Linked DNA regions of Homo sapiens. The protein of the gene in region 2 purifies or fractionates together with the protein of the main gene of each other region. This does not show direct contact. Each region holds a gene or a part of one and is shown on either strand. Other genes may lie near its edges. The genes, in order: ARMC9, YME1L1 and NDUFB6.

Evidence for each region.
Region 1: the proteins of YME1L1 (region 2) and ARMC9 purify together in Homo sapiens (co-immunoprecipitation; one large-scale study listed by IntAct). This does not show direct contact.
Region 3: the proteins of YME1L1 (region 2) and NDUFB6 purify together in Homo sapiens (affinity purification with western blotting, with the first as the bait; one study listed by BioGRID). This does not show direct contact.

Annotation. Positions count from the first base shown.
Region 1 is NC_000002.12:231,275,045-231,278,697, reverse strand, and holds part of ARMC9 (lisH domain-containing protein ARMC9), read right to left. Parts: intron 2,063-3,653; coding exon 1,923-2,062; intron 317-1,922; coding exon 240-316; intron 1-239. UniProt on the Homo sapiens protein: Involved in ciliogenesis. It is required for appropriate acetylation and polyglutamylation of ciliary microtubules, and regulation of cilium length. Acts as a positive regulator of hedgehog (Hh)signaling.
Region 2 is NC_000010.11:27,112,993-27,116,532, reverse strand, and holds part of YME1L1 (ATP-dependent zinc metalloprotease YME1L1), read left to right. Parts: intron 1-187; coding exon 188-314; intron 315-399; coding exon 400-473; intron 474-1,925; coding exon 1,926-2,012; intron 2,013-3,540. UniProt on the Homo sapiens protein: ATP-dependent metalloprotease that catalyzes the degradation of folded and unfolded proteins with a suitable degron sequence in the mitochondrial intermembrane region.
Region 3 is NC_000009.12:32,566,653-32,570,305, forward strand, and holds part of NDUFB6 (NADH dehydrogenase [ubiquinone] 1 beta subcomplex subunit 6), read right to left. Parts: intron 209-3,653; exon of another isoform or gene 1-208.

The DNA.
Region 1 (3,653 bases), on a different chromosome or scaffold from region 2:
GGCACAGGCCAGTGGGCCAAGCAGACAGGGACGGAAAGAACATCCTGCTTCTGACTTCCAAAATTCTAAAAATTATAAAAGATTTCCAGTTGCTTATGAAAATCCCAGAAGGACAGAGAACATGTACAGTTTTCAAATACAGCAACCATCCTGGGCCAGCTGTGTGCCTGTGGGGTCACAGGCATTGGGTCCCCAGTGTAGCCTCCCCGAGCCCAGGGCCAGCAGTGCTGAATGAGTACCTCATGGTTTTCATGGCCAAGAAGATCCGAAAGGACTTTGAGCACGAGGCCTGCCACCTTGGCACACATGTTCTTCCCTATGGGAAACAAATCAAAGCTAAACATGACATGTCTAAACCCAGAAGCACAATTTTAGGTCAGGTAGACTTGGAGACAAATCTTGGCTCCTCTGCTCATGAGCTGTATGACCTCGGGTGAGCTGTATGACCTCGGGTGAGTCATGTAACCAATCTGGGCCTCAGTTTCCTCTTCTTTACTACAGGGATTACTATTCATACCTACCTCAAAAGGTGATGCAAAATTAAGTAGACTAATGTATGTAAAGGACTCAGTGTAGCATAGAACCTCGGTGCTCAGTAAACCATCCCAAGTGGTGGCTATTACTCCGGTCAGAGCACAGAGCGAGTCATTACAGTGAAAGCACAATACATTATAGAGCAACGTTCTCCCTCCCACGCACGGACACCACCATCAGGAAGACCATATAGGCATTTTAGTAGTTATAAACATCATCATAAAAATCACTGCAAATATGGTGATGATGATGAAGAAAAGCTAATTCTAATCTGATAAACATATTAGAAGTTAGGACTTTTGGCTGGGTGCGGTGCTTTACGCCTGTAATCCCAGCACTTTGGGAGGGCGAAGTGGGTGGATCACTTGAAGTTAGGAGTTCAAGATCAGCCTTGCCAACATGGTAAAACCCCCTCCCTACTAAAAATACAAAAATTCGCCAGGTGTGGTGGTGGGCACCTGTAATCCCAGCTACTCGGGAGGCTGAGGCAGGAGAATCGCTTGAACCCGGGAGGCAGAGGTTGCACCACTGAGCCAAGATCATGCCACTGCCTCTAGCCTGGGCAATGGAGCGTGACTTCATCTCAAAAAAAAAAAAAAAAGGCTAGGACTTTTTGCATGCTATTTTTTTAAATGACTGAAATAACAGTCATTTACTCAGTCAACAACACACAGTTACATGGTTCAGTCTACAAAGTATATAGAGGGGAAGATGCTCCAACAAGTCCTCCTGAGCCAGCTGTTTACCCAGGGAGCCTTTCTCTCCTAACACTGGATGCTCAGGCTGGGGAAAGCCACAGCCTGGAGGTGGCACCTCTTCTAAAGAAGCTTCTTTCATCCCAGGTAACAATTTAAATGAGATAGTACCTGTACCTGGAAAAGCTCAAATCACTACCTTCAGCGATCAAGTATATAAATGACTGATCAAGTATATAAATGACTTGTGCCCACAGGAGAACCTCCACCTCCAGGGCTGGGGCAGGGAAAAGAGTGTGATTCAGGGCAGGAAGTGTGGTTTAGTGTCACTGCTACTGCGGCCAGCTTAATCCTATAGTATCTTGGGAACACACTTCTTTGTCTTCAGAAAAGGGGATCATATTCTTAATTTCCTACCTCTGAATAATGCAATAAAGAAAAAGGTAAATGAACTTAGTCTCCTCTTAATGCAGGCACTACATATATACAAGACATTTTTTCCAGGGCAAGAATGGATTTTGCCTTCAGGGATTCAACAGCTTGATACCTAGTTGGAAATGCTTTCTACTCCTTTTTCTGTTTTTAGTTTTCTATGAGACTAAAAGCAAACCATATCAGGCTCACTAGAAACCCAGCTTCAAGAGTCAAGATCTCTTCCCCTTCTTGCACTAGAATGAGGGTCGGGGCTGAGACCTGTGCTGCGGAGGCAGAGGTTCATGAGCAAAGCCACCGAGTACTCCAGCGTGTAGTCAGACAGGCAGTCAGGGTCCTTCAGAACATCAACCAGCCAGAAGATGAGGCCGTCTTGAATCATCGCTGTCTGCAGCGGGCGCCTGGGAAGAAAGAGCCTACGGTAAATACAAACTGCCAAGAAACTTTTCATATAAGAGGAAACAGTAGGCTGGAAGCAGTGGCTCATGCCTGTAATCCCAGCACTTTGGGAGGCCAAGGCGGACGGATCACCTGAGGTCAGGAGTTGGAGACAAGCCTGGCCAACATGGTGAAACCCCGTCTCTACTAAAAATACAAAAATTAGCCAGGCGTGGTGACGGCGCCTGTAATCCCAGCTACTTGGGAGGCTGAGGCACGAGAATTGCTTGAACCCGGGAGGCAGAGGTTGCAGTGAGCCGAGATCGTACCACTGCACTCCAGCCTGGGCGATGGAGCAAGACTCTGTCTCAAAAAAAAAAAAAAGAAGAAACAGTAATGTGAATGCATATCAGAAAAGACAAACTTACAGAAGACATAGACTCTGAGGAATATTTTTGTTAAACCCATACAATTGAAATAACAAAAATTCTTTACATTTCAGGGATATTTATTAAGGGTTTAAATAAAGATAAGGTGGTAAGGAGGCCTCCTACTTTGAAAGTTTCCTTTTCAATATTTAAAATTAGCAGAGCATTGCTTCAAATATCTAATAAATATTTATTTGTAGCTTTTGGTTTACTTAACCCAGGAAACAGGACCATAGAAATACTTCTTTGACAAATAGGTTTTTTGTTTTTTTTTCCTGAGACGGAGTTTTGCTCTTATTGCCCAGGCTGGAGTGCAATGGCACGATCTCGGCTCACCGCAACCTCCGCCTCCTGGGTTCAAGTGATTCTCTTGCCTCAGCCTCCCAAGTAGCTGGGATTACAGGCATGCGCCACCACACCCAGCTAATTTTGTATTTTTAGTAGAGCTAGGGTTTCTTCATGTTGGCCAGGCTGGTCTCGAACTCCCAACCTCAGCTGATCTGCCTGCCTCAACCTTCCAAAGTGCTGGGATTACAGGCGTGAGCCACCGTGCCCAGCTGACAAATAGATTTTTACCTAAACGCTCTATAATCCAGCTCTAGGCACTCTGAGCTGTATAAAAATAAAGAAAACAAGGAGGAGCAAAAGCCTAGCTTAACATCACTTTGATTCACATTTCTATAGAGTAAGGGTAGTTTAATGACCTGGTTAATGCAAATTATAAGGAATGATTTTCCACCCAAAGTCCAGGTGTAGAATCTTACAAAATCCAATACCCCATCAAAATGTGTGATGGTGAATGTCATCAGGTTAGCTTTAAGAATTGCTGAGACTAAGTGTGGTATCATTATGAGATGCCATCTGGATTAGTAGAAAACTGACATGCCACAGAGAAGCCAGCTCTGCACATCTCCGGATGCGCAGGTTATGGTGAAACCACCACTCAGGACAGAACAGCAGAACCAGTTATCCGTTCATCCTGTTCTTAAACACTACACTGACCCAATCAGGGTGGCTTATTAGAATACAGTGAAGACTGCGCTCTCTTGGTAACTAGCTACCTTCTTCATTTATTGCAGAGACTCTGGAAAACTGCAAAAAGGTTAAGCACATTTACAGAACAAAAAAGCTTAAATTAACACTTAGAGGAAAAGATAAACAGGCAGTAAACATTTGCATTACCAGG
Region 2 (3,540 bases):
CACCATGCCTGCCTAATTTTGTATTTTTAGTAGAGACAGGATTTCTCCATGTTGGTCAGGCTGGTCTCGAACTCCCAACCTCAGGTGATCCACCCACCTCGCCTGCCAAAGTGCTGGGATTCAGGCGTGAGCCACCGCACCCAGCCTCTTTGCTTATTTTTTATCTGATTAATTTTTAATTGTCTAGGTGTCCCTGTTACCTGAGAATGACAGATGGAATGAAACTAGAGCCCAGCTGCTTGCACAAATGGATGTTAGTATGGGAGGAAGAGTGGCAGAGGAGCTTATATTTGGAACCGACCATATTACAACAGGTTAGCTTTAAAGAATGGCTTTAGTTCAAATTATATGTGGTCTTAAAGATATGTTTTAAAATGGTATGTTTTTATTTTATTTTAGGTGCTTCCAGTGATTTTGATAATGCCACTAAAATAGCAAAGCGGATGGTTACCAAATTTGGAATGAGTGAAAAGGTAATAGATTTTTTAAATCCTTTTCATGTATCAAATTATGTGTCAAGTGTTGATTTGAGAGCTGGTTCTGATTATAAATTGGTAATATTCACTTTTTCTCTCACTCCAAATGGATTTGAGGCTCTTTATTCTGAACATTGTTATTCTCTGAATAAAGAAAATGGACCTTCTCTTAGCTGCTGAGAATGAGCTGCCCAGATAGTAACTATTACTTCACGAGTTAATTAAGTGATAAAGCAAGGTGAATTCCTTAGCTTTTCCATGTGGCATGAAAGAGTCTACTTTCTAAGTTTGGTTACTTTACTGTTTCCCTCTATTTCATATTTTCATCTTGTCATTGTTCCTTGAAGCACTACTATACTCTGTGAATTATGGATTTCTATATTTGAAGTAGCTGCCAAGGTTTTTCAAGAAAGTACTGAGAACCAGACTTAAAATGATTTTAGGCTGGGCACTGTGGCTCACATCTGTAATCCCAGCACTTTGGGAGGCTGAGGAGACTGTATTGCTTGAGCCCAGGAGTGAGTTCTGGACCAGCCTGGGCAACATGGCACAACCCCATCTCTAAAAAAATACAAAAATTAGCCAGGTATGGTGGTGTGTGCCTGTAATCCCAGCTACTTGGGAGTCTGAGGTGGGAGGATTCTCTGAACCCAGGAGGTCGAGGCTACAGTGAGTCCACTGCACTCTACCCTGGGTGACAGAGCAAGACCCTGTCTCCAAAAAAAAAAAAAAAGATTTTAAATGTTCTGTCTTGCTCATACTTTTACTATTTTGATATTAGTGTTTTTTTGTTTCTTTGTTTTTGAGACGGAGTCTTGCTCTGTTGCCCAGGCTGTAGTGCAGTGGCGTGATGTTGGCTCACTGCAGCTACCGCCTCCCGGGTTCAAGCGATTCTCCTGCCTCAGCCTCCCAAGTAGCTGGGATTACAGTCACCTGCCACCATGCCTGGCTAAATGTTAGTCTTTATACTTTCAGAAGAATGTGGAAATTTCTTTGCCCTCAAATGCAGTTTTTATTTTTATTTTTTTTGGAGACGGAGTCTCGCTCTGTCACCTAGGCTGGAGTGCAGTGGCGCAATGTCAGCTTACTGCAACCACCGCCTCCTGGGTTCAAGCGATTCTCCTGCCTCAGCCTCCTGAGTAGCTGTGATTACAGGCACGTGCCGCTATGCCCAGCTATTTTTTGTGTTTTTAGAAGAAATGGCGTTTCTCCGTGTTTCCAGGCTGGTCTCGAACTCCTAACCTCAGGTGATCCACCCGCCTCGGCCTCCCAAAATCCTAGGATTACAGGTGTGAGCCACTGTGCCCGGCCTCAAATGCAGTTTTCTATTGTACTTCTTTCTTGTCCCCCATATATTTGTTTCCTTATATATAGGATAGTACTTTCTCTTTCAAATTTGTTGGTGTTTGGGGGTTTTCTGTTCAATTACTTTCTTCCTTTTGGTTTTAGCTTGGAGTTATGACCTACAGTGATACAGGGAAACTAAGTCCAGAAACCCAATCTGCCATCGAACAAGAAATAAGAATCCTTCTAAGGGTAATAATATTTTTTGTGCTTATTTATTTTCTTAGGAACAATGTGCTTAAATAGTCAGGTTCTTAAAAAATAACAGCTGAAGGCCCTCTGTTCACTAGAAACATCATTTTATAAAATAAAGATAATAGTCACCATGGTGTCTGGGGAAAAAATTAAAAAATAAAGATAATAGTTGCAGCATTTCAGCAATGATTTAAATGTTATTAAGGCACCTCTCTGTTCATGAACCTGGACACGGGCTAAGAACAGTTCTATATTGCATGGTTGTAAAAATTCAATTCTCAGGGTGAGGGACAAAATAACTACATATTAGGTATTAGGTACAGTGTACACTATGTAGGTATGGATACACTAAAATCCCAGACTTTACCACTATACAATTCATCCATGTAACCAAAACCACTTGTACCCCATAAGCTGTTGAAATAAAATCTATATATAAAATTTTATATGTATATAAAATTCAATTGTACTTTAGCTGCAAAACTGTAAGAGGTAATAGAATGGGAAGAGTATTGTTTATTGAGTCTTTGACATGTATTCAACAAATAAATTTTTTTTTTTTTTTTTATGGAGTCTCATTCTGCTGCCCAGGCTAGAGTGTAGTGGCATGATCTCGGCTCACTGCAACCTAAGAAATAAGTTTAGTAGGTGTTTTATTGTTGGTTTTTTGTGGGTTTTGTCATTTTTTTTTTAAGGGGATGGGTCTTGCTATATTGCCCAGGCTGGACTTGAACTCCTGGGCTCAAGTCAACCTCCCAAGTAGCTGGGGCTACAGGCACACACCACTATGCCTAGCTCTATGATTTCAGTTTTTTGTTTTTGTTTTTTCTTTTTTTTTTTTTTTTGAGACAGAGTTCTGCTCTTGTTGCCCAGGCTGGAGTGCAGTAGTGCTATCTCGGCTCATTGCAACTTCCGCCTTCTGGGTTCAAGTGATTCTCCTGCCTCAGCCTTCTGAGTAGCTGGGATTACAGGCGCGTGCCACCATGCCTGGCTAATTTTTTGTATTTTTAGTAGAGACAGGGTTTCACTATGTTGGCCAGGCTGATCTCAAACTCTTGACCTCAGGCGATCCACCCACCTCGGCCTCCCAAAGTGCTGGGATTACAGGCATGAGCCACTGCGCCCGGCCCAATTTCAGTATTATGTATGTTGAATTTGAGGCATCTTAGTTGGAAATAGATGTGGGAACTTAGTGGAGAGATTGGTTATGTATTGCATTTGAATGTTGAAGCTACCCATTCATGAAGGCAGGTCTTTTTTTTTTTTTTTTTTTTTTTTTTTTTTTTTTTTTTTTTTTTGAGACAGCATCTTGCCCTGTCACCCAGGCTGGAGTGCAGTGCTGTGATCTTGGCTCATTGCAACCTCTGTCTCCCAAGCTCAAGTGATCCTCCCACCTCAGCCTCCTGAGTAGCTGGGACTATAAGCGCATGCTGCCATGCCTAGCTAATTTTGTTATTTTTTGTAGAGAGCATTTCACTATGTTACCCAGGCTGGTGTCGAACTCCTGGGCTCAAACGATCCACCT
Region 3 (3,653 bases), on a different chromosome or scaffold from region 2:
CTCTCAGGTAACTCCGGATCCGGCTTTCACAGCTGTATCTCAGATAGCCAGACTTATTCCAAAATCGGGACTCCAAGCCTTCAAACCACAGCGGGTCCTCAGCCCGGGTGTCGGCTGCGACGTTCTGGCTGACGTTGTACAGGAGGTCGGCCAGCAGTCTCTGCCTCTGTGGGGGCCTGCTCATCACACAGTAGCTGCCGGGCGGCCTGGATGAGCCACGCGTGCGGCTGGCGAAAAGCACTGAGGAAGCACCCGATGTCACTCACATAGCCCTGCCAGGCCTGGCGTGAGGTGAGCAGCACCAGCTCGGCATCGTCGAGGACGCTTCGGTCAGCTCCATGCCATCCTCGTACGAGGGAGCTAGAAGCAGAGGTAGCCCTTGCGCAGCATCTCCCGGCAGCTCCTGCCCGCCATGCCAAACTTCCTCGGGCTGCACAGGGCCCGCAGCTTCACAGTCTTGTGCTTCTGGAGCACTGCAGATGTACTCAACGCCTCTGGGCCCCGCAGGCAGTGGCACCCGCTGGCCAGCTGCTCAAGCTGGTCCAGGCCCCAGTCACAGGGCTCTACACCAGGTGTGCTCTGCAAAACTGGCATGGGCCGGGAACCGATCCCAGAAACTCAGTGCCATTTTGCTAACAGCATGTGTTCACTTCACGTCTCTGTGCCATATTTTGGTAATTCTCCCAATATTTCAAACTTTTTCAGATGGAGTCTCGCTCTGTCACCCAGGCAGTGGTGCGATCTTGGCTCACTGCAACCTCCTTCTCCCAGGTTCAAGGGATTCTCCTGCCTCAGCCTCCCCAGTAGCTGGGACTACAGACGTGCACCAAGCCCGGCTAATTTTTGTATTTTAGTAGAGATGGGGTTTCACCATGTTGGCCAGGCTGATCTTGAACTCCTCACCTCAGCTGATTTGCCCACCTCAGCCTCCCAAAGTGCTGGGATTACAGGTGTGAGCCACCATGCCTGGCCTCAAACTTTGTCACTATTGTTATATTAATATTTGTTATGGTAATCTGCACTCAGTGATTTTTGATGTTACTACTACAAATTTTAGGGGCAACACAAATCACACCCATATAAGATAGTGAATTTAATAAGTAAATGTTGTGTGTTGTGACTGTTCCACCAACTGGCCATTCCCCACCTCTCTCCCTCTCCTTGGACTGTCCTATTCCCTGAGACACAACAATACTGAAATTAGGCCAATTTAATAACACTACAATGACCTCTAACTGTTCAAATAAAAGAAAGAGCTGCATGTTTCTCACTTCATATCAAAAGCTACTTGGTAGGCTGAGGCAGGAGAATTGCTTGAACCTGGGAGGCGGAGGTTGCAGTGAGTCGAGATGGCACCACCGCACTCCAGCCTGAGTGACACAGCAAGACCTTGTCTCAAAAAGAAAAAAAAAAGATAGTGATTCCTCTGATGGATCTAGGCAAAGAAAATGGAAAATCTTCTGGGAAAGAATTTACTATCCTATATGCCATTAAGAAGATTTGTGATTAACAGGAGGAGGTCAAAGTATCAACATGAACAAGAGTTTGGAAGAAGTTGATTTCAACTCTCGTGGATGACTTTGAGGGGTTCAGGAATTCGGTGCAGGAAGGAACTCGATGTAGTGGATATAGCAAAAGAACTAGAATTAGAAGTGGAGCCTGACCATGTGACTGAAGTGCCTCCATCACATGATAAAGCTTGATAGATGAGAAGGTGCTCCTTTTGGATGAGCAAACAAAGTGGTTTCTTGAGATGGAATCTGCTCCTGGTGAAGATGCTATGAACATTGTTGAAATGACAACAAAGAATTTCGAATATTACATAATCTTAGTTGATAAAGCAGCGGCATGGTTTGAAAGGCCTGACTCCAATTTTGAAAGTTATACTGTGGGTAAAATGCTATGCTATCAAACAGCATCTCATGCTACAGAGATATCTTTCGTGAAAATAAAAGTCAATCGATGTGGCAAACCTCAGTGTTGTCTCATATACATATATATATATGTATATATGTACATATACTTATATATGTATATACGTATGTATATATATGTGTATGTATATGTGTGTGTGTGTGCATATATATATATATATATTTTTTTTTTTTTTTTTTTTGAGATGGAGTCTTGCTCTGTTGCCCAGGATGGAGTGCAGTGGTGCAATCTCAGCTCACTGCAACCTCCGCCTCCCGGGTTCAAGCGATTCTCCTGCCTCAGCCTCCCGAGTAGCTGGGATTACAGGCACCCACTACTACTCCCAGCTAATTTTTGTATTTTTAGTAGAGACAGGGTCTCACCATCTTGGCCAGGGTGGTCTTGAACTCCTGACCTCGTGATCCACCTGCCTTGGCCTCCCAAAGTGGTAGGATTACAGGCGTGGGACACCGCGCCCCGCCTGCTATCTTATATTAAGAAATTGCCACAGCCACTCCAGCCTGCAACAACCATCACCCTGATCAGTCAGCAGTTATCAACATGGAAGCAAGACCTTCCATTAGCAAAAAGATCATACATAGTCACTAAGGCTCAAATGATCATTAGCATTTTTTAGCAATGAAGTTTTTGTTTTTTTCTTTTTCTTTTTTGAGACGGAGTCTCACTCTGTCGCCAGGCTGGAGTGCAGTGGCACGATCTCAGCTCACTGCAACCTCCACCTCCCAGGTTCAAGTGATTCTTCTGCCTCAACCTCCCGAATAGCTGGGACTACAGGCGCCCGCCACCATGCCCAGCTCATTTTTTTTATTTTTAGTAGAGGTGGGGTTTCACCATGTTGGCCAGGATGGTCTCGATCTCTTGACCTCGTGATCCACCCGCCTCAACCTCCCAAAGTGCTGGGATTACAGGCATGAGCCACCGTGCCCGGCCTGTTTTTTCTTTTTAAGGCAGCATATCAACCTGGCACCTAGGCCAGAGTGCAGTGGCACAATCACAGTTTATTGCAGCCTCGAAATCCTGGGCTCAAGCAATCCTCCCATCTCAGCCTCTTGAGTAGCTGGGATTATAGGTGTGGACCACTACATCCAGCTATTTTTTTTTCTTTTTTTTTGGAAACATGGAGTCTCACTATGTTGCCCAAGCCGGTCGAACTTCTGGCCTCAAGCAATCTTCCTACCTTGGCCTCTCAAAGTGCTAGGGCTACAGGTGGGAGCCACCACACATGGCCCAGCAATAAAGTATTTTTAAATTAAAGCATATACATCGTTCTTTTACACTGCTATTACACACTTATACCACAGCACAGTGTAAACATAACTTTTATATGCACTAGGAAGCCAAAAAATTTGTGTAACTCGTTTTGGTGGTCTAGAACCAAAGAATACTTTTGGAACTGCATTGTTCTACAACCAATTCTGAAATATCTCTGAGGTATGCCTGTATTTGGCCAATCTCCCTATATATAACCCATCTCCTGTCACCACAACCACATCCCAGCATTAATACCTGCCTCACCTCATTCAGGTTCTGACATCTTGCTCTGAGTTACCACTTGCCTCACTGCCTCATACCATCCTTCTTCCAGATGTCCTCCTCCCTCTGCTCAGGTACCAATATCCTATACTAGGCTGTTGCCACTGTTGCTCCCCAAACAGATGTGCTCACCCTCCTCCCCTGCAACCCACTGAGGATCTAACACCCCTCTCTTGGTATACGAA